Linked DNA regions of Homo sapiens. The protein of the gene in region 1 purifies or fractionates together with the protein of each later gene. This does not show direct contact. Each region holds a gene or a part of one and is shown on either strand. Other genes may lie near its edges.

What was found.
Region 2: the proteins of ZC3HAV1 (region 1) and NIP7 purify together in Homo sapiens (affinity purification with mass spectrometry; 2 studies listed by BioGRID and IntAct, with this or other methods). This does not show direct contact.
Region 3: the proteins of ZC3HAV1 (region 1) and GLYR1 purify together in Homo sapiens (affinity purification with mass spectrometry; 2 studies listed by BioGRID and IntAct, with this or other methods). This does not show direct contact.
Region 4: the proteins of ZC3HAV1 (region 1) and DDX24 purify together in Homo sapiens (affinity purification with mass spectrometry; 3 studies listed by BioGRID and IntAct, with this or other methods). This does not show direct contact.

What each region holds. Positions count from the first base shown.
Region 1 is NC_000007.14:139,099,720-139,106,751, forward strand, and holds part of ZC3HAV1 (zinc finger CCCH-type antiviral protein 1), read right to left. Parts: intron 1-7,032.
Region 2 is NC_000016.10:69,334,809-69,342,803, forward strand, and holds the start of NIP7 (60S ribosome subunit biogenesis protein NIP7 homolog), read left to right. Parts: upstream 1-4,963; 5' UTR 4,964-5,021; coding exon 5,022-5,077; intron 5,078-5,197; coding exon 5,198-5,284; intron 5,285-5,385; coding exon 5,386-5,524; intron 5,525-6,371; coding exon 6,372-6,512; intron 6,513-6,724; coding exon 6,725-6,844; 3' UTR 6,845-7,995. Other genes in the region: COG8 (conserved oligomeric Golgi complex subunit 8), read right to left, coding at 1-540, 1,697-1,904, 4,368-4,744.
Region 3 is NC_000016.10:4,802,696-4,809,313, reverse strand, and holds the end of GLYR1 (cytokine-like nuclear factor N-PAC), read left to right. Parts: intron 1-4,003; coding exon 4,004-4,078; 3' UTR 4,079-6,111; downstream 6,112-6,618. UniProt on the Homo sapiens protein: Cytokine-like nuclear factor with chromatin gene reader activity involved in chromatin modification and regulation of gene expression. Acts as a nucleosome-destabilizing factor that is recruited to genes during transcriptional activation.
Region 4 is NC_000014.9:94,078,203-94,085,099, reverse strand, and holds the start of DDX24 (ATP-dependent RNA helicase DDX24), read left to right. Parts: upstream 1-3,897; 5' UTR 3,898-3,981; intron 3,982-5,352; 5' UTR 5,353-5,357; coding exon 5,358-6,075; intron 6,076-6,897. UniProt on the Homo sapiens protein: ATP-dependent RNA helicase that plays a role in various aspects of RNA metabolism including pre-mRNA splicing and is thereby involved in different biological processes such as cell cycle regulation or innate immunity.

The DNA.
Region 1 (7,032 bases):
AGTTCAAGAGCAGCCTGGCCAATGTGGCAAAACCCTGTCTCTACTAAAAATACAAAAATTAGCCAGGCATGGTGGCGCGTGCCTGTAATCCCAGCTACTTGGGAGGCTGAGGCAAGAGAATCGCTTGAACCCAGGAGGCGGAGGTTGCAGTGAGCTGAGATCACACCACTGCACTCTAGCCTGGGTGACAGAACAAAAAATAAATAAATAAATAAATAAATAAACCTCAAAAAAGTAAATAAATAAAATAAATAGTTTTAGCCATTTTTAAAATGGTAAAAAACAAACAAAAAATAAATACTTTATCTCAAAAAATAAATAAAAATAGTTTTAGCCATTTTTAAAATGGTAAAAAACAAACAAACAAAAACTGTTACAAACAAAAATAGAGTGCTATGATGACCAAAAAAGTAAAATGCGAATAAGAAGCAACTACTAAGATGCCAAGTAAGACAAACTTAAAAAAATGAGTAATAAGACTTAAAAGGGCTAGAGATCCAGAATATATAAAGAATTAAAACCACAATGAGGGCTGGGCGCGGTGGCTCACGCCTGTAATCCCAGCACTTTGGGAGGCCAAGGTGGGCAGATCACGAGGTCAGGAGATCGAGACCACCCTAGCGAACATGGTGAAACCCTGTCTCTACCCAAAATACAAAAAAAAAAAATTAGCCAGGGGTGGTGGCATGCACCTCTAGTCCCAGCTACTCAGGAGGCTGAGGCAGAATGGCGTGAACCCAGGAGGCGGAGACTGCACTGAACCGAGATTGCACCACTGCACTCCAGCCTGGGCGACAGACCGAGGCTCTGTCTCAAAAAAAAACAAAAACAAAAACAAAAACAAACAAAAAAAACCACAGTGATACAATTTCACATTCCTTGTATTGGCACAAATTTTTAAAAGCTGACGATACCACTTGGCCACTATGTGAGGCAAGGGAAGGCTCTTATTCTTCTGGTGGGAGTATAACTTGGCAAACACACTTCGGAAAACAATTTGGCATTATCACATAAAACTTTAAGAATCAAAATTCCACTCTCCCTCTCTTTCCACGGTCTCCCTCTCCCTCTCTTTCCACGGTCTCCCTCTCCCTCTCTTTCCACGGTCTCCCTCTCCCTCTCTTTCCACGGTCTCCCTCTCCCTCTCTTTCCACCGTCTCCCTCTGATGCGGAGCCGAGGCTGGACTGTACTGCTGCCATCTCGGCTCACTGCAACCTCCCTGCCTGATTCTCCTGCCTCAGCCTGCCGAGTGCCTGCGATTGCAGGCGCGTGCCGCCACGCCTGACTGGTTTTCGTATTTTTTTGGTGGAGACGGGGTTTCGCTGTGTTGGCCGGGCTGGTCTCCAGCTCCTAACCGCGAGTGATCCGCCAGCCTCGGCCTCCCGAGGTGCCGGGATGGCAGACGGGGTCTTGCTCACTCAGTGCTCAATCTTGCCCAGGCTGGAGTGCAGTGGTGTGATCTCGGCTAGCTACAACCTCCACCTCCCAGCCGCCTGCCTTGGCCTCCCAAAGTGCCGAGATCGCAGCCTCTGCCCTGCCGCCACCCCGTCTGGGAAGTGAGGAGCGTCTCTGCCTGGCCGCCCATCGTCTGGGATGTGAGCAGCCCCTCTGCTCGGCTGCCCAGTCTGGGAAGTGAGGAGCGCCTCTTCCCGGCCGCCATCCCGTCTAGGAAGTGAGGAGCGTCTCTGCCAGGCCGCCCATCGTCTGAGATGCGGGGAGCGCCTCTGCCCTGCCGCCCCGTCTGGGATGTGAGGAGCGCCTCAGCCCGGCCACCACCCCGTCTGGGAGGTGTACCCAACAGCTCATTGAGAACGGGCCATGATGACGATGGCGGTTTTGTGGAATAGAAAAGGGGGAAAGGTGGGGAAATGATAGAGAAATCGGATTGTTACTGTGTCTGTGTAGAAAGTAGACATGGGAGACTTCATTTTGTTCTGTACTAAGAAAAATTCTTCTGCCTTGGGATGCTGTTGATCTATGACCTTACCCCCAACCCTGTGCTCTCTGAAACATGTGCTGTGTCCACTCAGGGTTAAATGGATTAAGGGCGGTGCAAGATGTGCTTTGTTAAACAGATGCTTGAAGGCAGCAGACTCGTTAAGAGTCATCACCACTCCCTAATCTCAAGTACCCAGGGACACAAACACTGCGGAAGGCCGCAGGGTCCTCTGCCTAGGAAAACCAGAGACATTTGTTCACTTGTTTATCTGCTGACCTTCCCTCCACTATTGTCCTATGACCCTGCTAAATCCCCCTCTGTGAGAAACACCCAAGAATGATCAATAAAAAAAAAAAAAAATCAAAATTCCACTACTAGATCTCTAGGGAAACTCATGTACATGTACACAAAGAAGCATATACCAAAATGTTCAAAGCATAATGGTTTAATAGCAAATACTTAAAACAATATCAATTTTACTTTGTTTTTTCAGAGGCAGGGTCTCATTCTATTGCCCAGGCTGGAGGGCAGTGGCGCAACTGCACCTGACCGCAGCCTTGTCCTCCCAGGCTCAAGTGATCCTCCCGCCTCAGCCTCCTGAGTAACTGGGACCACAGGTGTGTGCCACTGTGTCCAACTAATTTTATTTTTTAATGTTTTTGTAGGAGCTATGTTGCCCGGGCTGGTCTCGAACCCCTGACTTCAAGAGATTCTCCCACCTCGGCCTCTTGAAGTACTGGGATTACAGATATTAGCTACTGAGGCCAGTCTCAATTTTAATAATAAGAAGATCAATATATAAATTGTGTACATTCATGCAAAAGAAAACAATGAAGACATTTCAGGGAATCAGAGTAGACCTTCTCTAAAATTGGTGGGGCCCAGAGCAAGGTTATAAATGGAGGCTTGGATACAAATGTCTAAATATTTAACAGTAATAAATCATGCTGAGCTGGGCTTAGTGGCTCATGCCTGTAATCCCAGCAGTTTGGGAGGCTGAGGCAAGAGGAATGCTTGAGCCCAGGCACTCGAGACCAGCCTGGGCAAAATAGTGAGACACTGTCTCTATACACACACACACACACACACACACACACACACACACACACACAAATTAGCCAGGTATGGTGGCACTAGCCTGGTCCCAGCTACTGGGAGGCTGACATGGGAGGATCGTTTGAATCCAGGAGGTGGAGGCTGCAGTGAGCCATATTTGCACCACCACACTCCAGAGTGGTGACAGAACAAGATCCTGTCTCAAAAAAAAAAAAAGTATATATATATGTATATGTATATGTATATGTATATGTATATGTGTGTGTGTGTTTATATATGATATATATAAAATAAAAACTTTAATACAAAAACTTTAAAATTTGTTGTAAAAAAATTTTTTTGGAGACAGAGCCACACTCTGTTGCCCAGGCTGGTGTGCACTGGCATGAACATAGCTCACTGTAACCTCAAAATTCCTGGGATCAAACAATCCTTCTGCCTCAGCCTCCAGCACTGCTAGGACTATGGGCATGCACCACCACGCCCAGCTAATATTTTTTATATAATTATTTTTATTTTTTATTTATTTTACTTGTTTTTTATTTTTTTATTTTTTTATTTTTTTTTTATTTTTTGATGGGGTCTCACTATGTTGTCCAGGCTAGTCTTGAACTCCTGTCCTCAATCCTCTCATCTTGGCCTCCCAAAGCACTGGGAGTACACCCATGAGCCACTGCACCCAGCCCAGGAAAAAAATTTTTTTTGAATTCAAATAATGACTATTTCAAAGCCTTCCGACTGGCATAAGCCAAAAAAGTCTGATAACACCAAGCATTAATTGGCCAGAAAATGAGGAAACTGGGACACTCAGACATATAAGTATAAATTGGCACAGCCACCTTTATACTAATTCGTCAGAATCTGGAAAAGTTGAAGCTATGTAACAATTCAAACCAACAATTCCACTTCCTAATGATCTACCCTGGAAAAGCTCTAACCATGAGCACCAGGAAACACTTGCACGTAAATTCTTGGCAGCACGATTTGGTATAACAAAAACCTGGAAATATACTATATATCCATTACTGGGGGGAATAGGTAACTGAACTGTGGTATAAATCCTATGATGAAATACTTTTCAACTGTTAAAATGAATAAACTAGGTCCTTGTGTAGCAATATGAATAGATCTCCAAAACACAGCATTGAATAAAAATTCTAAAACACATAAAATACTACATTTTGTATATGGATGCAAACATATACAAGAGGAAATTATAAAATCATGGAAGGACAAGATACACACCAAAATCATGATTGAAGCTGCTTCTTAGGAAAGGGAAATGAGACTGGGGATGAGAAAAAAATAACCTTAGGTCTGTTATGATTGTTTAGTATATTTTAAAAGAGGAGCAAAACTGAAAAATGTGAACACTTATTTATCCCAGGAGGTGAGTTATAACTTTTATGGGTTCAGAATAAATATTCTCTGATGCTTGCGTTTTTCAGTATTCTATTCAACTTGCGAAACAGTCAACTAGTCCTCTTCCCATCTACCCACCCCCACCCAAAATGTGAATTAACCGAAAAGGAAAGACATACAAACAGGAAAGAACCCAGAGGAAACACCCACATCGGCAAAAACCGCAAAGCAAGGTAAAGACCCTTAGGCAGCCTGCTTGAAACAGTTAACAGAAATCATGCAGGCAAAATAAATTTTTGAATTAATAACTTCATATAGTTACTGGACAATGTAAGTAGCTAGTTAAGAAGTCAAGGCCGGGCGCGGTGGCTCACGCCTGTAATCCCAGCACTTTGGGAGGCTGAGGTGGGCGGATTGCCTGAGCTCAGGAGTTGGAGACCAGACTGGGCAACATAGTGAAATCCCGTCTCTACTAAAATACAAAAATGAAAAAAAATTAGCCAGGCGTGGTGGCAGGCGCCTGTAGTCCCAGCTACGCGGGAGGCTGAGGCAGGAGAATCGCTTGAACCGGGGAGGCGGAGGTTGCAGCGAGCTGAGATCACGCCACTGCACTCCAGCCTGGCAACAGAGCGAGACTCTGTCACAAAAAAAAAAAAAAAAAAAAAAAAAGTCAAACAAGGCCGGGAGCGGTGGCTCATGCCTGTAATCCTGCACTTTGGGAGGCTGGGAAGATTGCTTAAGCCTAGGAGTTTGAGAGCAGCCCAGGCAAAATGGCAAAATCCCATCTCTACTAAAAAATACAAAAATTAGCTGGGTGTGGTGGCACATGCTTGTAATCCCAGCTACTCGGGAGGCTGAGGCAGGACAATCGCTTGAACCGGGGAGGCGGAGGTTGCAGCGAGCTGAGATCACGCCACTGCACTCCAGCCTGGGTGACAGAGTGAGACTCTGTCTCAAAAAAAAAAAAAAAAAAAAAGAAAAGAAAAGTTAGCCGGACATGGTGGCGCCCACCTGTAGTCCCAGCTACTCAGGAGGCTGAGGGAGGAGGATCATCTGAGCCTAGGAATTCGAAGTGGCAGTGAGCTATGACCGTGCCACTGCACTTCAGTCTGGGTGACAAAGCAAGATCTCATTTCTAAAGAAAAAAAAAAGGAAGTCATGCAGATCTAGGTTCAAATACCAATCCTGCCAGCTTCTAGTTATGTTACTTTCAGTAGATTTCTGAAAGGCTCCATGCCCGAGTTTCCTACAATAAGGATGGGACTTAAAATACTACCTTAGGAGCTATCCTAAAGACTAACCTGGATATCATCTCCAAAGTGCTTATCATAGTGGTTGGCACATAGTTATTTGTTCGATAAATAGTGATTATTTTTGCATCAGAAGTGGGATTAGAACTCCATGTGTGGGCATATATTTCAGCAAAGCAAATAGAAATATCCAAACCGATTCACCAAAACAATTATCCAACATTGAAGCAAGCCCTGTTGTCAACTAAAATGTATCACTAAAAACATTGCAAAAGAAAAGACAGGAACTACAGAATAGACAGGATAAATCCTATCTATAAATAATAGTACCACAGACAAAATTTTATACACCCAGCACAATGCAAATCGTCCCCCTGTAAACAGAGACCAGTTTAGTGAACTGAATAGTAATGTCAAGATGGGTATCAATTAGTTAACAGACCCCATTAACTGGTAATCTACAAAGAAAGTTCTTAAACTCACAAGTGGCAAGTTTTGGAAGACAAGGTTTTATTACTCGCTAAGAGGAGAATATTTTTAAAACATAAGTAGGGAGGAAAAAAACATGTTTTCTAGGACCCGAGGACAAAAAAAAAATTCTCCCAGAGGTCCTTATTACAACACTTTATACATTAATAGATTAAAAGTTTGTAATTCCCAAATTCAAAAGTGATATAAAATGAAATTAAAAATATGGCTCTGCCAATAAATGTTAGGAAATAAGATTTTATCACTCTACTAAAAAAAATAAACTTTATTGACTTCTCTGGAGGGTCCATCCAAATTTAGATAGACCAAATAATCCCTATATTATATATATTCTTATAAAAGTGGAGGTTAACAACCCAATTAACGAGTTTAAAACAGTTTTGCTGTTTCAAACCAGGGAAAAATATACCATAATAAACTTCATAAAACTAAAATTTCTAAGCATATTGCCTACAACAAATTGAAACAAAGTATTTAAATGTTAGATATGTAACATATGAAAACAATTATAGGCCAGGTGAGGCAGTGGCTCAGGCCTGTAATCCCAGCACTTTGGGAGGCCTAGGCCGGCAGATCGCTTGAGCTCAGGAGTTCGAGACCGGCCTGGCCAACATCGCGAAACCCCATCTCTACTAAAAATACAAAAAATTAGCCAAGCATGGTGGCACACACCTATAATCCCAGCTACTTGGGAGTCTGAGGCAGTAGAATTGCTTGAACCTGGGAGGCAGAGTTTGCAGTGAGCTGAGATCGGGTCACTGCACTCCAGCCTTGGGTGACCCTATCTCAAAAAATTTTAAAAAAATCTTTTTTTAAAAGGATTATGTCTATGTATCCTTTTCCCTGAAAATAAAAGTTGGATTTATAAGACAATCAGGGAAATTTGAATACCAACTGGACAATAGATGATATTAAAATTGTAATTTTTTTTACAA
Region 2 (7,995 bases), on another chromosome or scaffold:
GGCCACCCGCTGGAAAACAGGAGCCAACTGACCCCGGAAATCAGCTCCCACCCGGCTGAAGGACAGCCCAAAGTACATGCACTGGCCCAGCAGAGAGTCCAGGTGGCCGCCTATGCCCCGGTAAAGGTCGGTCTCCAGCACCTGCAGGAATTGTGAGACCTTCTGTAGCACCCAGCCATGGAAGATGGCACTCTCATTCACAGTGTGCTCACCCATGGCAGGGGGCAGCAGTGGGTCCTCGTCTGAGAAGATGGCACGGTACTGGGTGATGATATCAAAGAGATGGACACGGGAGGCCTCGATGGTTTTTGTAATATGGAAATAGGGATCATCATTAGGAATGGCAGTCAGGATGGACCGGAGCCAAGCATCTCGGGCCTGAAGAAACTTCACCCTCAACTCAGCCTCAGTGAAGACGTCCATGCGCCGCAGGTAGCCAATGACACGGAGGCAGGCAGGAAGCTGGATGTTGGTCCTCAGTTGCTGGATCAGCTGGCTCAGCATCAGCTGCATGGACTGGCGCACTTCGTTCACGATGCCCTGACAATACACAGAGAGAGTCACACTGCGCTGGGAAGGATGCTCTCTAGAACCCATTCCCCTAACTCTGAAGACTGCAGACCAACATTCCCATGGCTTTCCTGAAATGTGAAGTAATTTCCTAAAGCTGATGCCTGTAGGTTCACCAACAAAGATCAGGTTAGTTAACTCTCTTGCTTAAAAAGCTTAAAACCTGGCCAGGTGCAGTGGCTCAAACCTGTAATCCCAGCACCGTGGGCAGGCAGGTCACTTGAGGTCAGGAGTTTGAGACCAATCTGGCCAACATGTGAAACCTCGTCTCTACTAAAAATATAAAAATCAGGTGGGTGTGGTGGTGCAGGCCTGTAATCCCGGTTACTCGGGAGGCAGAGGCAGGAGAATCACTTGAACCCGGGAGATAAAGGTTGCAGTGAGCCAAGGTCGCACCACTGCACTCCAGCCTGGGGGACAGAGCGAGACTCTGTCTCAAAAAAAAAAAAGAAAAAAAAAAAAGCTTAAAATCCTCCAGTGACTTCCCACTGCAATCAAGAAAATTCCAACCACTTGTTGGGACTTACACTGGTGGCCCTACCTGGCTCTCCATCTTCACCTGCTTCCTAGTGCTCTCCCGCTGCTACAATCCATTAACCCTGGCTGCCTCTGTATCCCTTAAACACCTCAATTTCTGCCCACTTCAGCCCTCTCTACTTGTTCTTCACACTTTCTGGTTTGCTCTCTCCCCAGATCTTTGTGGGCTGGCACCTCCTTCTCATTTAGGTCTCAGCTTAAATGTTACCTCCCTAGAAGAGTCCTTCTTGATCACCCTACCTAAAGAAACCTACCCTAGACTCCCTTACCCCATTCCCTGTTTTTTTCTTCAGACACCACTATCTGAAATGATATCATTTCTTTGTCAATTATCAGACTTCCCATTAGCACGTAAGCTGCATGAGAGCCAGGACCACTTTATTCACACTGTATCCCCAGCATATAGAGCAGTGCTTGGCACATGATTAATATGTATTTTGAATAAATGAATGTTTTCTGTTCAGGCATACCTGGCTGGCAGAAACTGATGTGAAACATGCAAGAGTTTCTACCTAAAGCTTCAGTCCTGACCACAGAATAAATGATTACAAGAACATTACTTTGAGTCCTCTCTGGGCAAGGTGGCTACCTGGATGACAGGGATGGAAGAGTATTTCCTCTCCAGTCGGCGTACGTAGGCTGCAAGCTCCAGGGCCTCTTCATAATAACTGTTCCGGACACAGGTGTCCATGAGCTGAGGAATCTCCAGTATTTCCAAAATTTCTGTGTGCCGGTTTAGGGTCAGGCTATTCATCCGGCGGTTGGAGCTGATCTCCTCGGCTTCCTTCACAAAGTTCCTAGTAATAATCAGAAGAATGTTGATCCTTCACTGCTCTGTACCCAAACCTTAGCTACAGTTACCAAGTACCTGCTATGAACATTGGGCTGGATGATCTATCTGATTTATTCCTCACACCCCACCTATAAGGTAAGTATTATTACAATTGAGGAAATTTTTAATCCCAGAGAGGTTAAGCAACTTGTCCAAAAACATACAATTAATAAATCTAACAGATGGAGATCCAGATATGCCACTTGCTGGCTGTGGCAAGGTACTTGGCCTCTCTGAACCTATTTCCTCATTAGTAAAACGGTATATAGGGCCAGGCGCAGTGGCTCACGCCTGTAATCCCAGCACTTTGGGAGGCTGAGGTGGGCGGATCACTTGAGGCCAGGAGTTCAAGTGAAACCCCATCTCTACTAAAAATACAAAAAATTAGCCAGGCATGGTGGTGCGCGCCTGTAGTCCCAGCTACTCAGGAGGCTGAGGCAGGAGAATCACTTGAACCCAGGAGGTGGAGGTTGCGGTGAGCAGAGATGGCGCCACTGCACTGCAGCCTGGCCAACAAAGCAAGACTCCGTCTCAAAAAAAAAAAAAAAAAAAGTATATAGGACCCTCCTCATAAGGGTGTAAGAACTAAATGAGATGATGTGTGTGAAGCATTTAACATAGAACTTGAAACAGAGCGAATGCGTCAAAGTAAAAATAGTAAAAGAGACACAGTTAAATATTTAACAGTAGCTATCATTATTTTCAAAATGAAGCACTAACTGCCTAGAATCCACAATCTTTCCCCTCAGGTCTTCATCTTCTCCTATGCTAATGTTCAACCATAGTTCCTGCCACAGTCTACTTTCAACACTTCTCCATATTTGCAGAGACCTGCTTTATCAAGTCCCCTATCTATTCTGGAGCATGGAAGGGTACAAAAGCTGCTGTCAAATATCCAAAGGCTCAAAAGAAAAATTAAACTTTAATCATGAAAGGCTGGAAGGCAGAACTAGGGATAATGGAGACAGAATATGACTCACAAAGGACTTTTTTTTTTTTTTTTGAGACGGAGTCTTGCTCTGTCACCAGGCTGGAGTGCAGTGGCACGCATCATCTTGGCTCACTGCAACCTCCGCTTCTCAGGTTCAAGTAATTCTCCTGCCTCAGCCTCCCGAGTAGCTGGGACTACAAGCGCGTGCCACCACGCCCAGCTAATTGTATTTTTAGTAGACATGGGGGTTTCAGCATGTTAGCCAGGATGGCCTCGATCTCTTGACCTCGTGATCCGCCTGCCTTGGCCTCTCAAAGTGCTGGGATTACAGGTGTGAGCCACCGCACCCAGCCTTTTTTTCTTTTTTTAAGAGAGTTTCACTTTGTCACCCAGTCTGGAATGCAGTGGCACAATCACAGCCCACCGCAGCCTCGACCTCCCAAACTGGAGTGCGGTGGCACAATCATGGCTCACTGCAGCCTCAATCTCCCGGGCCCAACTGACCCCCCCACCTCAACCTCCTGTGTACCTGGGACTACAGGCGCACGCCACCACGACCAGCTAATTTTTTATTTTATAGAGACAGGGTTTTGCCATGTTGGCCAGGCTGCTCTCGAACTCCTGGGTTCAAGCCTCAGGCTCCCAAAGTGCTGGGATTACAGGCTGAGCCACCACATCCAGCCATCCAAATGGAGAGACTTTTTGATATCTGATGCCCTCAAATGCGAGGATTTCCTTGTCACCTTCCCGTCAATGGAAGTTTTGAAGCAGATGACCTCCGGTCCACGCTTTCGTATAAAATAAGTATATAAATGTGCACATATATTCAGCTCACACCTATAATGTTAACTGTGTCAGACCCGATAATAAGAGCTTTGCATGAATCCTTTTTCTTTGTGCCCACAACTGCCCTTCGAGGGAGGGACGTGCTTCTGGGTAACCAGTTCTGAATTCGAAACCTCCTAGCTGTGTCCTTGGACGTCACTAATCTCTGTCTTGACTTGCTCATATGTAAAATGGAAATAACAGGGCTGGGCGCAGTGGATTATGCCTGTAATCCCAGCGCTTTGGGAGGCCGAGGCGGACAGATCACGACATCAAAAGATCGAGACCATCCCAGCCAACATGCTGAAACCCCGTCTCTACTAAAAATCCAAAAAAATTAGCTGGGCGTGGTGGCGCGCGCCTATGGTCCCTGCTACTCAGGAGGCTGAGGCAGGAGAATCGCTTGAACCCAGGAGGCAGAGGTAGGTTGCAGCGAGCCGAGATCTCGCCACTGCACTCCAGCCTGGCGACAGGGCGAGACTCCGTCTCAAAAAAGATAAAAAAGGAATAACAGTACCTATCTCGAAGGCTGTTGTGAGGTTTAAATGGATTAATAAAGCGCTCAGCAGAGAACCTGGAACGTGGTAAACGCTTTATGTGTTAGTTATTTCTACCATCGTAAATGTCAGCTTTTACAGTTATAAAACCCCTTTAGCGCCAGGCGCGTCGCACCTGCAGCTCTGCTGGAAGCTGGGCAAACGGTCGAGCAGGCGGCCGAGCGACGCCTCCACGTCGCCAAACAGGCGGTGGATGCGCTCGGTGCACTCGGCGCCGCGGATGAAGGTCTTGTAGTTAGCGAAGGCCAAGTCGCGCGTCTGCTGCAGCAGCTGCGCCCGCTCCTCCGCCAGGCGCTCGGGCTCGCGCCGCAGCCGCTCCAGCCCCGAGCCGCTCAACTCCCGGAGGTAGCGGCCCACATCGGGCCGCTCGCGCCACTGGGCCTCGGGGAAGCGGTCCCGGAACAGCGACGCCAGGAGCCCTTCATCCTCCACCTCGCCGAGAGCCGCTGCTGTGGCCGTGGCTACCGATGGGATAGTCGCCGCGGTCGCCATCTTCCCAGCAACAACGTCACTTCCCTTCCGGACCACAAGGGGCGCTGACTCCGAACTTAGGACAGGAAGAAACAGGCACATTTCCGGTCTCTATGCTTTCTCATCCGGCCGGCTTGCTTTCCCCTGCGGTCGTCCAGACTATTGGGCGCTAGCGAGACGAACTATTGGTACGGGGCTAGAGAGGAAGGCTTTGGGATTGCCGGGGAGCAGCGAGCGACCGACTTCCGTTTCCAGTTACCAAGGCACGAGGATCCGGTGTTCCAACCCAGGGGGAAAAATGCGGCCTTTGACTGAAGAGGAGACCCGTGTCATGTTTGAGAAGATAGCGAAATAGTAGGAGCGCGCGGGGCGGACGCGGGAGTGTGTGGGTGTGGTGGCCAAGGGTGGAGTGGGGGCGCGGTGCCGGAGACCGGTTCGTTCGGGCGCGGTCTCCAGTCCTCTTTTTGCCCTCAGCATTGGGGAGAATCTTCAACTGCTGGTGGACCGGCCCGATGGCACCTACTGTTTCCGTCTGCACAACGACCGGGTGTACTATGTGAGGTGAGGCGGGGCCGGGCAGGCAGCATGGACCCAGGGGAGAGGGGTCCTGGGTCCCACGAGCCTCCTTCATCCGCAACCTTGCTCCCCCTTTACCCTTTTAGTGAGAAGATTATGAAGCTGGCCGCCAATATTTCCGGGGACAAGCTGGTGTCGCTGGGGACCTGCTTTGGAAAATTCACTAAAACCCACAAGTTTCGGTTGCACGTCACAGCTCTGGATTACCTTGCACCTTATGCCAAGGTTTGTGGGGCGGTTTCCAATTCTGCCACGGGCGATGAAGTCAAGGATTAGGCAGATTGTCCGGCAGCTTCTCTCCCACAGAGTCCCTGACAGTGTGCTTGGAGGAGTTTCAGCACATGGAGATGTGTAGAGGTCTTGCAGCTTGAGCATGGTCAGGGCTATGGGATAGGAATGCTATGTGGCTGCGTAGGGTTAGTTTTCTCCAGCGAAGTAGAAGAGCCTAGGGAGACCCAGCTAGAGATCAGAAAGCAAATAAGTGGCAGCAATGAAGACACCGGGGTCCAGAAAAAGAGCTGTTAACCTGGCCATGGAGGATGATCCTTGTAGAGTTGAGAAAATAACTTTTTCTATTTTTTTCTTTTTCTTTCTTGCTCTGTTTTTTCTTTTCATTTCTCTTTCTCTTTCTTCCTGACACAGTTTCACTCTGTCGCCCAGGCTAGAGTGCAGTGGTGCGATCTCACTGCAGCCTCCACTTTCCAGTTTCCAGTGATTCTTGTGCCTCAGTAGCTGGGATTACAGGCATGTGCCACCACACCTGGCTGATTTTTTTGTGTGTTTTTAGTAGAGACAGTGTTTCACTGTGTTGGCCAGGCTGGTCTCGAACTCCTGGCCTCAAGTGATCCACCTGCCTTGGCCTCCCAAAGTGCTGGGATTACAAGCGTGAGCCACTGCACCGGGCAACTTCCTGCATTTCTGTTCAGGAGATAGACAGTTTGAGGAAAACATGAGTCTCTCTGTTTCCCTTAAAATTATTTCAGAAAATTATTCACAGATCCAGCAGCTAGCTTGTCTGCATGGATAGAAATAGTAACGTTTTTATGTCTCTTGGATTTTAATTCTCTTATAGTATAAAGTTTGGATAAAGCCTGGTGCAGAGCAGTCCTTCCTGTATGGGAACCATGTGTTGAAATCTGGTCTGGGTCGAATCACTGAAAATACTTCTCAGTACCAGGGCGTGGTGGTGTACTCCATGGCAGACATCCCTTTGGTGAGTAGAGATGGTAGCTGTTACAGAACTCAAGTACTCTTATTCAAGAAGGGTATGTCTTCAATCTGAGTGCTTGAGAGAATAAATTCTCAGCACGTTTTGAATCCCAGAAAGACCAGAACTGTATTTTTTCCGTCTTTGTTATTTCCAGCCCTCAATATGGGCATATTGAATGACTTCAGTGAGTTAGTGTCTCTTCTTTTGAATCCCAGGGTTTTGGGGTGGCAGCCAAATCTACACAAGACTGCAGAAAAGTAGACCCCATGGCGATTGTGGTATTTCATCAAGCAGACATTGGGGAATATGTGCGGCATGAAGAGACGTTGACTTAAAACGAAGCCATTCCAAGGACAGACGGCTGTATGGAAAGGCCGAGCTTTGTTTCCTGTGTTTGTGTGGACTCCACCATCATGTTGAATTTTGTCAACACTCTGGCCTCTTCAGGGACTTCTTATTTACTGTACTCTCTATCACTGACAAATGCAGGCTGGATTCTTATTATATACAGAGATGGCTCAAAAATGGGGTTTCAGATCTTTGTGACGAAATAGAATACTGTTTCATATTTGAATCAGAGGGCTTCTTGTTCTGAGAAATAGGTTCAAAATCATTGGAACCAGGAACAAGAATAGCTTATTGTTATCTGTGATAACACTGTTTTCTAAACACAAGGATTTTCTTTTTTATTAATATGCAACATAGACATTGCCATAACAGAATAATAAACCACATGTGGGGTTTTAAAAATGAAATTTGGCTAATAGGAGCAATTCAGCTATTTTTCTATACAGTAATTGGTGTGTGGTATAGAAGAAAAACGGGTTCAAACCCCACTTCTGCCACCTACCAGCTATATGGCCTTGAATGAGTCATTCAGCTTTAATAAGGTTCATTTTCTTCTGTTTAAAAAGACACAAAACTTGAAAATCAGCTTTGGCCATCTACCTGAGAATTAGAAAGTCTGATTTTTGGAATTAGAAATCATGATTGTAGGCTGGGCACAGTGGCTCGCGCCTGTAATCCCAGCACTTTGGGAGGCCAAGGCGGACGGATCACTTGAGGTTAGGAGTTTGAGACCAGCCTGGCCAACATGGTGAAACCCCATCTCTACTAAAAAAAAAAAAAAAATTAGGTGTGGTGACACATGGCTGTGGTCCTAGTTACTTGGGAGGCTGAGGCAGGAGAATGGCTTGAACTGGGGAAGCAGAGCTTGCAGTGAGCCAAGATGGTGCCATTGCACTCCAGCCTGGGCGTGACAGAGTGAGACTCCATCTGATTGTAAAGCATCTAGTACAGTGTACAGTGCCTTGGAAATGATAGGTATGGAATAAATGGTAATTATTTTTATATTATATATATTATGTATTCCTGTTATTAAGTGTAGAGTTTTATGAGTATAATTTGATTTTATTACCTTCTTTTTTACAAGCTGTTTTCTCAGTATTTTTCTTGGATGGGATGACGCTAGGCTGGAAAGTTTTTT
Region 3 (6,618 bases), on another chromosome or scaffold:
GGAGGCTGAGGCAGAGAATTGCTTGAACCTGGGAGGCGGGAGGTTGCAGTGAGCCTAGATCGCACCACTGCACTCCAGCCTGGGCAACAGAGTGAGACTCCATCGCAAAAAAAAAAAAAAAAAAACGAAAGCTGCTACAGCCTTCTCAGGCTTATTGTTTTCATGGTATGTATATTTTTCCATCCATTTCCTCTCTTATTTATGTCTAAATTATGGCTTTGATAGACAGTATGTAATTGGGGTTTGGATTTTTATCCATTTTGACAGTATCTGCCTTTTAATTAGCATGTCTATTAGCATTTTTCAAATGATGTTTTAAGCACTTAACACGTGCACTTTTTTTATATTTGAGACACAGTCTCACTCTCTTGCCCAGGTAAAGTGCAGTGGCACAATTATAGCTCACTGCAGCCTTGACTTCCTAGGCTCAAGCAATCCTCCCACCTCAGCCTCCCGAGTAGCTGGGACTATAGGCGTGCACAACTGTATCCAACTTCACATACACTTTCGAAAAGCTTTTTAGGGTAGAAGTTCCGCTTTCTTAGCTCATCTTCATAGAATTTGAATCTAAAAAAAAAACAACTGAAAAACATTTGTCTTTACCATATTATTATAATAAAAATGACACTTTGTGAAACAGCAGCTGTATTTTTAAAGTACTATCAGCTGATACACTTTTATTTTATGTTATTTTATTTTATTTTATTTTATTTTAGAGACCGAGTTTCACCCTTGTTGCCCAAGCTGGAGTGCAATGGTGTAATCTCGGCTCACTGCAACCTCTGCCTCCTGGGTTCAAGTGATTCTCCTGCCTCAGCCTCCACAGTAGCTGGGATTACAGGTGCCTGCCAGTACTCCTGGCTAACTTTTTGTATTTTTAGTAGAGATACGGTTTCACCATGTTGGCCAGGTTGGTCTCAAACTCCTGACCTCAGGTGATCCACCCACCTCAGCCTACCTAAGTGCTGGGATTACAGGCGTGAGCCATGGCACCCAGCCAGTACTGTTCTTTTGACACCTGGCTTTTCATAGTATAATTCTCTGTTCCTGAATTGTATTTTTTTTTTTTTTTTTTTTTGAGACAGAGTCTCACTCTGTTGCCCAGGCTGGAGTGCAGTGACATGATCTCAGTTCACTGCAGCCCCCACCTCTTGGGTTAAAGTGATTCTCCTGCCTCAGCCTCCCAAGTAGCTGGAACCGCAGGCATGCACCGCCACACTTGGCTAATTTTTGTATTTGTAGTAGAGACAGGGTTTTACCATTTTGACCAGGCTGGACTCGAACTCCTGGCCTCAAGTAATCCGCCTGCCTTGGCCTCCCAAAGTGCTGGGATTACAGGCATGAGCCACCGCATGCAGCCTTGTTCCTAAATTCTGTCTTCTGTCTCTTGTCTGTTTCAACATTTCAGAGTACTTATTTCATGACTCTTTCAGATTACATTACTATTTCAAGTCCCCCCTGTTCATTCTACCAGTGGATTCTCTCTGGATAGTAGAATTCGTTGTGTATTTTATAAGTCTTTTTTGATGAAAGCTCATTTCTGACTATAGTTATTTCCCAAGGGTTTCATGTGGCTTGGGCTGGGAAAGCTTCTCTTTGAAGTGACTTCCAAGTTGCCTCCACCCTGACTACAGGATTCATTGGCTTGGAAGCAGAGTTTTTAGGTTAATTTCTCAATGCAGCTCGCTGCTTTCAGGTCGTTTGGATGGTATGAGCTTAGACTCTATACTGTTAGGAGTTCAGAGGTTAGGTTCTGAAGGTTAACTGGTGCATTGACCTTTAGTAGTTGTATTGATATGTGGTTCAATTTGGGGCTGCCATTTTATCATTTGATTTCTGTTCGTTGTCTTTGTCTTTTGTTTGTTCCTCCTTTCTTACTTTCTTTTTAGAATTCCAGTTTCAGCTGGGCACGGTGGCTGACACCTATAATCTCAACACTTTGGGAGGCTGAGGCGGGCAGATCACCTGAGGTCAGGAGTTCGAGATCAGCCTGGCCAATATAGTGAAGCCCAGTCTCTACTAAAAATACCAAAAATTAGCCGGGCATAGTGGCGGGCACTATTAATGCCAGCTACTCCGGAGGCTGGGACAGGAGAATCACTTGAACCCAGGAGGCGGAGGTTGCAGTGAGCCGAGATCGTGCCATTGCACTCCAGCCTGGGCGACAGACCAAGACTCCGTCTCAAAAAAAAAAAAAAAAAAAAAAGGGGCCAGGCGCAGTGGCTCACGCCTGTAATCCCAGCACTTTGGGAGGCCGAGGCGGGTGGATCACGAGGTCAGGAGATCAAGACCATCCTGGCTAACAGGGTGAAACCCTGTCTCTACTAAAAATACAAAAAATTAGCCAGGCGTGGTGGCGGGCGCCTGTAGTCCCAGCTACTCGGGAGGCTGAAGCAGGAGAATGGCGTGAACCCGGGAGGCAGAGCAGAGCTGGCAGTGAGCCGAGATCACACCACTGCACTCCAGTCTGGGCGACAGAGCAAGACTCCATCTCAAAAAAAAAAAAAAGAAAAAAGAATTCCAGTTTCATTTATCTATTTTCTTTTTTACTTTGCCTCTGCATTCTTTTTTTAGTGGTTACTCTACAGATTGCGGTATAAATCCTTAAGATAGAGTTAATCTTGCCAGGCACAGTGGCTTATACTTGTGATCCTTGTAATCCTAGCACTTTGGGAGGTCGAGGCAGGGTCGAGGCAGGGTCGAGGCTTAAGCAAGCCCAGGAGTTTGAGACCAGCCTGGGCAACATAGCAAGACCCCCATCTGTACAAAAAAAAATAAAAAACTAGCTGGGCGTGGTGGCGAGCACCCTATTCCTAGCTACTTGGGAGGCTGAGGCAGGTGAGGCAGGAGGATTGCTTGAGCCCAGGAGTTCGAGGCTGCAATGAGCCATGATCCTACCACTGCACTCCAGCCTGGGCAACAGAGCAAGACCCTGTCTCAAGAAAAAAAAAAAAGACAGTTAATCTTGTACCATTTCCCATTAAATGTAAAAACTTTGCAACCACACAGAAGCATTTCTTTCCCCCTTCCTCTCCCTCATCCTTTAAGGCAGGGTTTCTCAACCTCGGCACTGCTGCCATTCTGTGTGGGGGGGCTATCCAAGCACTGCAGGATGTTGGGTAGCCCACCCACCAGACGCCAGTGACATAGCTCCTCCTCAGGTGACAGAAAATGTCTCCAGATATTACCAGATGTCCCCTGGGGGCAGAAGCACCACAGGTGTGAGAACTCTCACTCTGAGGTATAGGTGTCCTGGGTGTTTCATCTGCCCTTGTTTTATTTTTTATTCATTTATTTATTTATTTGAGACAGTTTTGCTCTTTTTTTGTTTTTGAGACAGAGTCTCGCTCTGTCACCCAGACTGGAGTGCAGTGGTGTGATCTCAGCTCACTGCAACCTCCGCCTCCCAGGTTCAAGCTATTCTCCTGCCTCAACCTCCTGAGTAGCTGGGATTACAGGCACCTGCCACCATGCCCGGCTAATTTTTTGTATTTTTTTTTTTTAAAGAAGGGGTTTCACGACGGTCACCAGGCTGGTCTTGATCTCCTGACCTCGTGATTCACCCACCTTGGCCTCCTAAAGTGCTGGGATTACAGGCATGAGCCACTGCGCCTGGCCCTAATTTTTGTATTTTTAGTAGAGATGAGGTTTCACCTTTTTGGCCTGGCTGGTCTCGAACTCCTGACTTCAGGTGATCCACCCACCTCGGCCTTACAGGCATGAGCCGCAGTGCCCGGCCAATGCTGAATGTTTTATATCCCATAGTGTATTTCATTCTCACAAGATCCCCCGGGTACTGTTCCTTCTCCCAGAGCAAGAAGCACAGTGGCTGAGGTCCAGAGAAACGGAGGTGCTTCATGCAAGGTCAACACAGGATTCCTAACCGGACAGCCTGGGCTCCAGCACTGCCTGCTGGCCACATCCACCACTGCCTCCAGGAATCAGGTCTAGGTCTTGAAGGCAGCTCTGGGGCCAGAGACTGAGCCATCTCTTTTTTTTCCAGGTGTACAAAAGAGCCAAGGCGCTGGACCAGTCTGACAACGATATGTCCGCCGTGTACCGAGCCTACATACACTAAGCTGTCGACACCCCGCCCTCACCCCTCCAATCCCCCCTCTGACCCCCTCTTCCTCACATGGGGTCGGGGGCCTGGGAGTTCATTCTGGACCAGCCCACCTATCTCCATTTCCTTTTATACAGACTTTGAGACTTGCCATCAGCACAGCACACAGCAGCACCCTTCCCCTGAGGCCGGTGGGGAGGGGACAAGTGTCAGCAGGATTGGCGTGTGGGAAAGCTCTTGAGCTGGGCACTGGCCCCCCGGACGAGGTGGCTGTGTGTTCACACACACACACACACACACACACACACACACACACAGGCTCTCGCCCCAGGATAGAAGCTGCCCAGAAACTGCTGCCTGGCTTTTTTTCTTCCGAGCTTGTCTTATCTCAAACCCCTTCCAGTCAAGGAACTAGAATCAGCAACGAGAGTTGGAAGCCTTCCCACAGCTTCCCCCAGAGCGAAGAGGCTGTAGTCATGTCCCCATCCCCCACTGGATTCCCTACAAGGAGAGGCCTTGGGCCCAGATGAGCCAGTACAGACTCCAGACAGAGGGGCCCTTGGGGCCCTCCAACCTCAGGTGATGAGCTGAGAAAGATGTTCACGTCTAAGCGTCCAGTGTGCACCCAGCGCTCCATAGACGCCTTTGTGAACTGAAAAGAGACTGGCAGAGTCCCGAGAAGATGGGGCCCTGGCTTTCCAGGGAGTGCAGCAAGCAGCCGGCCTGCAGGTGAGCATGGAGGCCCGGCCCTCACCGCCTCGAAGCCATGCCCCAGATGCCACTGCCACAGCGGGCGCTCGCTCCTCCCTAGGCTGTTTTAGTATTTGGATTTGCATTCCATCCCTTGGGAGGGAGTCCTCAGGGCCACTAGTGATGAGCCAAGAGGAGTGGGGGTTGGGGGCGCTCCTTTCTGTTTCCGTTAGGCCACAGACTCTTCACCTGGCTCTGAAGAGCCACTCTTACCTCGGTCCCCTCCCAGTGGTCCCACCTTCTCCACCCTGCCCTGCCAAGTCCCCTGCATGCCCACCGCTCTCCATCCTCCCTCCTCTCCCTCTTCCTCCCGTGGAGACAGTATTTCTTTCTGTCTGTCCCTTTGGCCCAGACCCAGCCTGACCAACGATGAGCATTTCTTAGGCTCAGCTCTTGATACGGAAACGAGTGTCTTCACTCCAGCCAGCATCATGGTCTTCGGTGCTTCCCGGGCCCGGGGTCTGTCGGGAGGGAAGAGAACTGGGCCTGACCTACCTGAACTGACTGGCCCTCCGAGGTGGGTCTGGGACATCCTAGAGGCCCTACATTTGTCCTTGGATAGGGGACCGGGGGGGGCTTGGAATGTTGCAAAAAAAAAAGTTACCCAAGGGATGTCAGTTTTTTATCCCTCTGCATGGGTTGGATTTTCCAAAATCATAATTTGCAGAAGGAAGGCCAGCATTTACGATGCAATATGTAATTATATATAGGGTGGCCACACTAGGGCGGGGTCCTTCCCCCCTCACAGCTTTGGCCCCTTTCAGAGATTAGAAACTGGGTTAGAGGATTGCAGAAGACGAGTGGGGGGAGGGCAGGGAAGATGCCTGTCGGGTTTTTAGCACAGTTCATTTCACTGGGATTTTGAAGCATTTCTGTCTGAACACAAAGCCTGTTCTAGTCCTGGCGGAACACACTGGGGGTGGGGGCGGGGGAAGATGCGGTAATGAAACCGGTTAGTCAATTTTGTCTTAATATTGTTGACAATTCTGTAAAGTTCCTTTTTATGAATATTTCTGTTTAAGCTATTTCACCTTTCTTTTGAAATCCTTCCCTTTTAAGGAGAAAATGTGACACTTGTGAAAAAGCTTGTAAGAAAGCCCCTCCCTTTTTTCTTTAAACCTTTAAATGACAAATCTAGGTAATTAAGGTTGTGAATTTTTATTTTTGCTTTGTTTTTAATGAACATTTGTCTTTCAGAATAGGATTGTGTGATAATGTTTAAATGGCAAAAACAAAACATGATTTTGTGCAATTAACAAAGCTACTGCAAGAAAAATAAAACACTTCTTGGTAACACAGCTGTGCCGCAGGAGTCCTGCTTCCCTCGTCCTCGGCGAGATGGGTGGGAGGAGAAGGCAGCGGCGGGGCCGGGGTGGGTTTTCGGGACCTCCGCGTCCGGGGTGAGACGGACTTGGGAGTGGCGGCGAGGTCCGCGGCAGGGTTGGAACCACGACCAATGGAGCCAAGCGGGCCAATAGGGAGGAGGAGCGGGGACAGACTGTCCTGCCGGCCAATGAGTGAGCGCGAGTGGAGCAGAGCGCCCTATCATATCCTGGGGGCGCCCCGGGAGCTCCGCCCCCAAGCGGGCGCCCCAGGCTGGTGCCGGCCGCGTCCCTGGCCAGCCGGAGCAAGCCTGACTCGTGCAGCCGCCGGCCGCGTCCCTGGCCAGGCGGAGCGAGCCTCACTCCCGCAGCCGCCAGTCTGGTTCCAGGGCTCCCGCAGGTTTCGGGGGCCGAGGCGGACCGACAGGCGCCAGCCAATCGCGAGCACGGAGCCGGCCTGGGGGCGGGGTGGTACCCGCTCCG
Region 4 (6,897 bases), on another chromosome or scaffold:
TCCCACTTCAGCCACTGGCAATGGAGGCTTCTGCATGGGTCCCTTGGAAACTGGGACACATTCCTTATAGGGTTTCTTGATCTTGATTACTTTTTTTTTTCCCCCACACAGGGTCTTGCTTTGTCACTCAGGCTGAGTATACTGGCATTGGAACAGGAATTAAAAGAAATTAAAAACTGTGTAAGCAAAAACTCGGTTGTATGTAAAAAAACCCAATTTCCCTTGAGGAAGAGAAAGGGCTGGAGTCCTTTAAAATTAACTGCCTGTTTTTCTTTCTGAGGCTAGTGAGCCTTATCTCTCCCTTTCCCAGGCATTGTGAAGACTCTGTTTCTCTAGCTGTGCAGCTGCAAGGTCACTAGACAGATACTCTCAAGTCGTAAAACGTGTTGTTCCTTGAAAAGTAAGATATAATGTAATGCCATGTCTCAATTGAATAACTGTCTTTGTTTCTCGCTTCTGTAATATGCTTCCCACTGCACAAATCTCCCCCTGCCCCACGAAATGTTTAAAAGGTAGCTTGACTCTTTGTTCAGGGCTCAGTCCTTTGGATGTTAATCTGACTGGGTTTGTGCACCTAAATAATTAAATAATTCCTCCTCAACCCCTCGGTCCCTTTGGTTTCTTAATTATCCCGCAGCAGCATGAACATGGCTCACTGCAGCCTTGACCTCTTGGGCTCAAGCAATCCTCCCACTTCAGCCCCCTAAGTAGCTGGGACTAAGGGCGCATGCCACCAAGCCTGGTTAATTTTTGCATTTTTTGTAGAGACGGGGTTTCACCATGTCGCCTGGGCTGATCTTGAACTCCTGAGCTCAAGCGATCCACCCGCCTGGGCCTCCCAAAGTGCTGGAATTACAGGTGTGAGCCACTGCACCCAGTTAAAGTCACAGATCTCCAAGTCAGGTCTGAGCTCTGTAACATTAGCTGTATGACTCTGGCAAATTAATCTTCCTGCATCTGTTTTTTCATCTTTGAAATAAGAATAACATTAAAATAGTTTATTCTTACTATTTTTTAAAATTAGAATATTGAGAAGAAGGAAAAAAAATACCTATGTTTCCACTACTATAATGGAAACTTTGCCATCATTTTGCTTTTGGTTGACATCTCCCCCTCCCCCATTTTTAAAAATTAAAATTGACTCTCTTTCTTTCCTTCTTTCTTTTTCTTTTTTTAAAGATGATGTCTTGCTATGTTGTCCATGCTGGACTCACACTCCAGAGCCCAAGCGATCCTCCCTCTTCAGCCTCCTGGATAGCTGGGACTACAGGGATGTGCCACCACACCTGGCTTAAACCAATTTCTTTTTAATTCATAATTTTTAAATCAAAACAATTTACTCAACTCTTTATTTTGAAAAGTTTTAAACCTCAAAAAAGTTGAAAGAATAGTACAATGAACACTCACGTACCCTTACTCTAGCACCAATAATTCACCAATTATTAACATTTTGACTGTGTCCCCCTCTGCCATAATATACTTTTCTTTTTTTCTGAAACCAGCTGATTGATTAGGGTGGTGGTTGCTGAAAGGTGAGGTGCTGTGGCAATTTCTTAAAATAACACAACAATGAAGTTTGCTGCATGGATTGACTCTTCCTTTCATGAAAGATTTCTCAGTAGCATGTGATGCTAATTGGTAGCATTTTATCCACAGTAGAATGTTCAAAATTGTAGTCAATCCTCTCAAACCCTGCCACTGCTTTATCAACTAAGTTTACGAAATATTCTAAATCCTTCATTGTCATTTCAACAGTGTTCCCAGCATCTTCACCAGGAGTAGATTGTATCTCAAGAAACCACTTTCTTTGGTCATACATTAGAAGGAACTGTTCATCCATTCAAGTTTCTCACGAGATTGCCACAATTCAGTCATATCTTCAGGCTCCGCTTGTAATTTTAGTTTTCTTGCTATTTCCAACCACATCTGCAGTTACCTCCTTCACTGAAGTCTTGAACCTCTCAAAGTCATCAATGAGAACTGGAGTCAACTTCTTCCGAACTCTTGTTAATTTTGATATTTTGACATCTTCCCATGAATCACAAATGTTCTTAATGATATCTAAAATAGTGAACCCTTTCCAGAAGGTTTTCAATATACTTTGCCCAGATCCATCAGAGGAATAACTCTCTATGGCAGCCATAGCCTTACGAAATGTATCTTAAGTAATAAAACTTGAAATGCAAAATTACTTCTTGATCCATGGGCTGAAGAATGGATCTTGTGTTCACAGACATGAAAACAACATTCATCTCCTTATACATCTCCATTAGAGCTCTCGTGTGACTATGCACATTTTCAATGAGCAATAATACTTTGAGAGAAATCCTTTTTTCTGAGCAGTAGGCCTCAACAGTGGGCTTAAAATATTCAGTAAACCATGCTATGAACAGTTGTGCTGTCATCCAGGCTTTGTTGTTCTACTTACAGAGCACAGGCAGATTATATTTAGCGTAATTCTTAAGAGACCTAAGATTTTTATAATAGAATGGTAAACAAGCACTGGCTTCAATCCAAAGTCACTAGCTGCATTAGCCTCTAACAAAAGAGTGAGCTTGGCCTTTGAGGCCAGACATTGACCTCTCTAGCTATGAAAGTCCTTGATGGCGTCTTCTTCCAATAGAAGGCTGTTTTGTCTACATTGACTACTTGCTGTTCAGTGGCCACCTTCATCAACGATCTTACCTAGATCTTGGGGATAACTTGCTGCAGCTTCTCCATCAGCATTTGCTGCCTCATCTTACACTTTCATGTTCTGGAGACGGCTTCTTTCCTTAAACCTCATGAAATAATCTCTTCTAGCTTCAAACTTCTATAGCTTCCTCACCTCTCTCAGTCATCATAGAATAGAAGAGAATCAGGGCCTTGCTTTGGATTCGGTTTTGGGTTTAGGGGATGCTGTAGCCGGTTTTATTTTCTATCCAAACCACTAAAATTTTCTCCAAATCAGCAATAAACTGTTTCGCTTTCATATCATTCATGTGTTCATTAGAGTAAAATGTTTAATTTCCTTCAGTAACTTTTCCTTTGCATTCACAAACTGGCTAACTTTTTGGTGCAAACTTTCAGCCTAGCTTTCAGCCTATCTTGCCTTTTGACATCCCTTCCTCACTAAGCTTAACCATTTCTAGCTTTTGAGTTAAAGTGAGAGATGTGCGACTCTTTCTTTCACTTGAACACTTAGAGGCCCATTGTAGGGTTATTAATTGACCTAATTTCAACACTGTTGTGTCTCAGGGAATAGAGACCCAAGGAAAGGGAGAGAGAAGGAAGAACGGCCTGTCAGTGGATTAGTCTGAACACACACAACATTTATCAATTACGTTTGTATCTTATATGGGCACAGCTCATGGCGCCCCAAAACAATTACAATACAAGGAACACTCATCACACGTCACCCTTGTAGCAGAGCACATCTCCCTATGATCTAGGTACGAGCATTGTACCTAGGATGGACGCGTTCGTCCTCTTACCTTCGGGAACGCCCTACTCTGTCTACGGAGTAAAGTACTTAATAAACTTGCTTTTGCTTTGCTATGCGGACTCACCCTGAATTCTTTCCTGTGCAAGATCCAAGAACCCTCTCTTGGGGTCTGGATCGAGACCCCTTTCCGGTAACGAAACTACACTAAGAATACAAGAAAACTTACGTTACTGTGCGGGAGCTGACAAAGTCTCTCGCCGGAGGGAGCACACAGAATTTCACCTTCTCCGGCCTTTTCCCAAGCTGGCAGGAGTAAAGCTGTAAGAGGAGGTGCCAGCGCCCCAAGCCAGCTCTCCCGCCGGCACTGCTGCGGTCCGCGAGGCAGCCAATCAGGTAGCTGAGTTTGCCATAGGGGCGGGACTTCCTCCCCAGCGCGCACGAGTACGTGCGTGGAGGTCCCGCCCCGGAACTGCAGTTGCTGCTGCAGCTGAGGTACAGCGGCGGTTTCTGAGGTTCTTCACTCGCGACTGACGGAGCTGCGGTGGCGTCTCCACACGGTGAGTACCAAAACGAGCGGGGTTGGAGCCGACTCTGGAGAGGGGCTGAGGCCAGGAACCCGGGTTCCTATCGCGGGTCGCTCTGGGCCGGTGGGTTCCCGGGTCCAGAGAGGGCGGCCGCCGGCCCAAGCCGTCCAACCGAGCTGCGTGCCACGGTCCCCGCGCCTTGGGCTCCTTGTCCGGTCATCAGAGCCTGACGGCCTTGGCTTCTCGGCTTCTCGGTTTCTCGGTTTCGTGCGCGCGTTCGTGCCTGAGACAAAGCGAGAGGGCCGCGCGGGACCGGCGTCACGAGGAGACAGAGGCCCTTCTACTCTGCCTGGCGCTCTCCGTGTCCTCGCCCGGTTCGCGTGGCACCCCTCGCCCTCTCCTTGTTGAACCCCGCGTGTTTCTTTGTGTTTTTTTTTGTTTGTTTTTTGTTTTTTTGCCGTGGCGCAGCGGGTCCGGCGGGCACTGTGTGCGAACGTGCTCTCCTCGCCGGGCGCCATGCTCAGCGGTTTTTTTTGACGTGCGTCACTTTTTCGTAGTGGCGTATAAGGATTCTGTGGGACAGATGTCCTCGTTTTTCCCATTGTGCAGACTGGGAAATAAGAGACTCAGAGATTAATACGTCCACCGCAGAGCCACAGCTGACAAGTGGTGGATCTGGATTTGAACCAAAGTTTACCTTGGTCTTTTTCACGGAATCTGTTATCTTTCTTGGCCTTTCTGAAAAGGAAAAACCTGGATCGAGTTCCACCCAAACGAGTTGGGCCTAAATGGCCATTAAGCCACTTAAAATATGATGAAGAAACTGGATGGGTTTTAAGACGCTTGGCAAAGGAAAGGATGGTGGAGCAGGCATTTGCTCTCTCAGGCAAGGCTTGAGAAGGAAGCAAGCGCAGTACGCTTTTAATAAAGCTCACCCCTCCTGCCCCCACAAGAAAAACCCCTGAGATTCTTACTCTGCCTTCAGAACGACTTAGGTGTGGCAGGTTTCATCCTCCGTGCTTTACATAATTTTCTTTATTTACATAAAATGTACAACTTAGATATTGTTAGGTACCCTCCCCCCTTTTTATAGATGAGAGCACTGAAGTTCAGAGAGGAGTGGGTGGCACTATCCAAGGTCACACAGGCAGTAAGTGTTGGATTTGGAATTCAAACCAGGTCTAGCTCATATGTCTTTGTTCCATCACATGTGTACCCTGTGTTCCAGGCAAAGCTGTCTGTTCTGTGGTATTCTTTGTTCTTCTCTAGGTGGGAGCAACTGTGTGATAGCCATCTTTGTATCCTCAGTTCTTTGTAGGGCCTAGTTGCTTAGAAAATATTTGTTACATCAGAACCCTCTGCTTCTCAGACACCAACCTAATAGAACATGTATCTCCTTTTCAGCAACCATGAAGTTGAAGGACACAAAATCAAGGCCAAAGCAGTCAAGCTGTGGCAAATTTCAGACAAAGGGAATCAAAGTTGTGGGAAAATGGAAGGAAGTGAAGATTGACCCAAATATGTTTGCAGATGGACAGATGGATGACTTGGTGTGCTTTGAGGAATTGACAGATTACCAGTTGGTCTCCCCTGCCAAGAATCCCTCCAGTCTCTTCTCAAAGGAAGCACCCAAGAGAAAGGCACAAGCTGTTTCAGAAGAAGAGGAGGAGGAGGAGGGAAAGTCTAGCTCACCAAAGAAAAAGATCAAGTTGAAGAAAAGTAAAAATGTAGCAACTGAAGGAACCAGTACCCAGAAAGAATTTGAAGTGAAAGATCCTGAGCTGGAGGCCCAGGGAGATGACATGGTTTGTGATGATCCGGAGGCTGGGGAGATGACATCAGAAAACCTGGTCCAAACTGCTCCAAAAAAGAAGAAAAATAAAGGGAAAAAAGGGTTGGAGCCTTCTCAGAGCACTGCTGCCAAGGTGCCCAAAAAAGCGAAGACATGGATTCCTGAAGTTCATGATCAGAAAGCAGATGTGTCAGCTTGGAAGGACCTGTTTGTTCCCAGGCCGGTTCTCCGAGCACTCAGCTTTCTAGGCTTCTCTGCACCCACACCAATCCAAGCCCTGACCTTGGCACCTGCCATCCGTGACAAACTGGACATCCTTGGGGCTGCTGAGACAGGTAAGGGCAACTCTGGCCAAAGCAGGATTGCTTCTGGATTGAGCCCATAGCTGCTAATAGGCCAGATAATTGGGAGAGAGAAGAATGTTGAAGAACATAACCACAAAAGCAACGCTGAATAAAGGTGTTTAGAAGTCAGCCCCTCTGGTTTGAAATATGCTCTTCTTGAATGGTATCCTAGCCAGATCACTTTTATCTCTCTCAGCTCTGTAGACCCCATTATCAACCAAATGGAGATAACAGTTTCTACCTCTTGCATTGCTGTGAGGGTTAAATGCCACAGTAAACTAAAGCTTACACTGTACATTGGAAGTGGTCTGCAAATCGTAGTTTCTGCTGTTCTTGAGCCTTTTCTAAATAGCTCAAAGGGGTAAGGCAAGGCTAAGATCAGCCCTTTGGAGAGGTAGATCTTCATGAGTATAGGGAAGAACTGTCTAATTCTCAGGAGTTGTGCAAAGGTGAAAAGGGTTGCTGCTTTGGGAGTTGATGAGTTTCTTGTCATTGGAAGGATTTGAGTGTGGTGGGTAGTCATTGGGTGGATTTTGTAAACAGATTCAGCTATGAAGTGTTAGGACTATGCTGTGTTTGAGGTTCCTGCGAGACTTTTGGAAGCAATGACAGGTTGACTTTGCTGGATAGACTAGACTGCTGACTTGGGGGAGGAACTAGTACTGCCTGGAACTATTGGTCTGTTTAGACCAGCAGTGTCCATTAGAAATACATATAGTCATCTCTTGATATCCATGGAGGATTGGTTCCAGGACCTCCCTTGGATACCAAAATCCAGGGATGCTCAAGTCTCTGATATAAAATGGTGTAGTG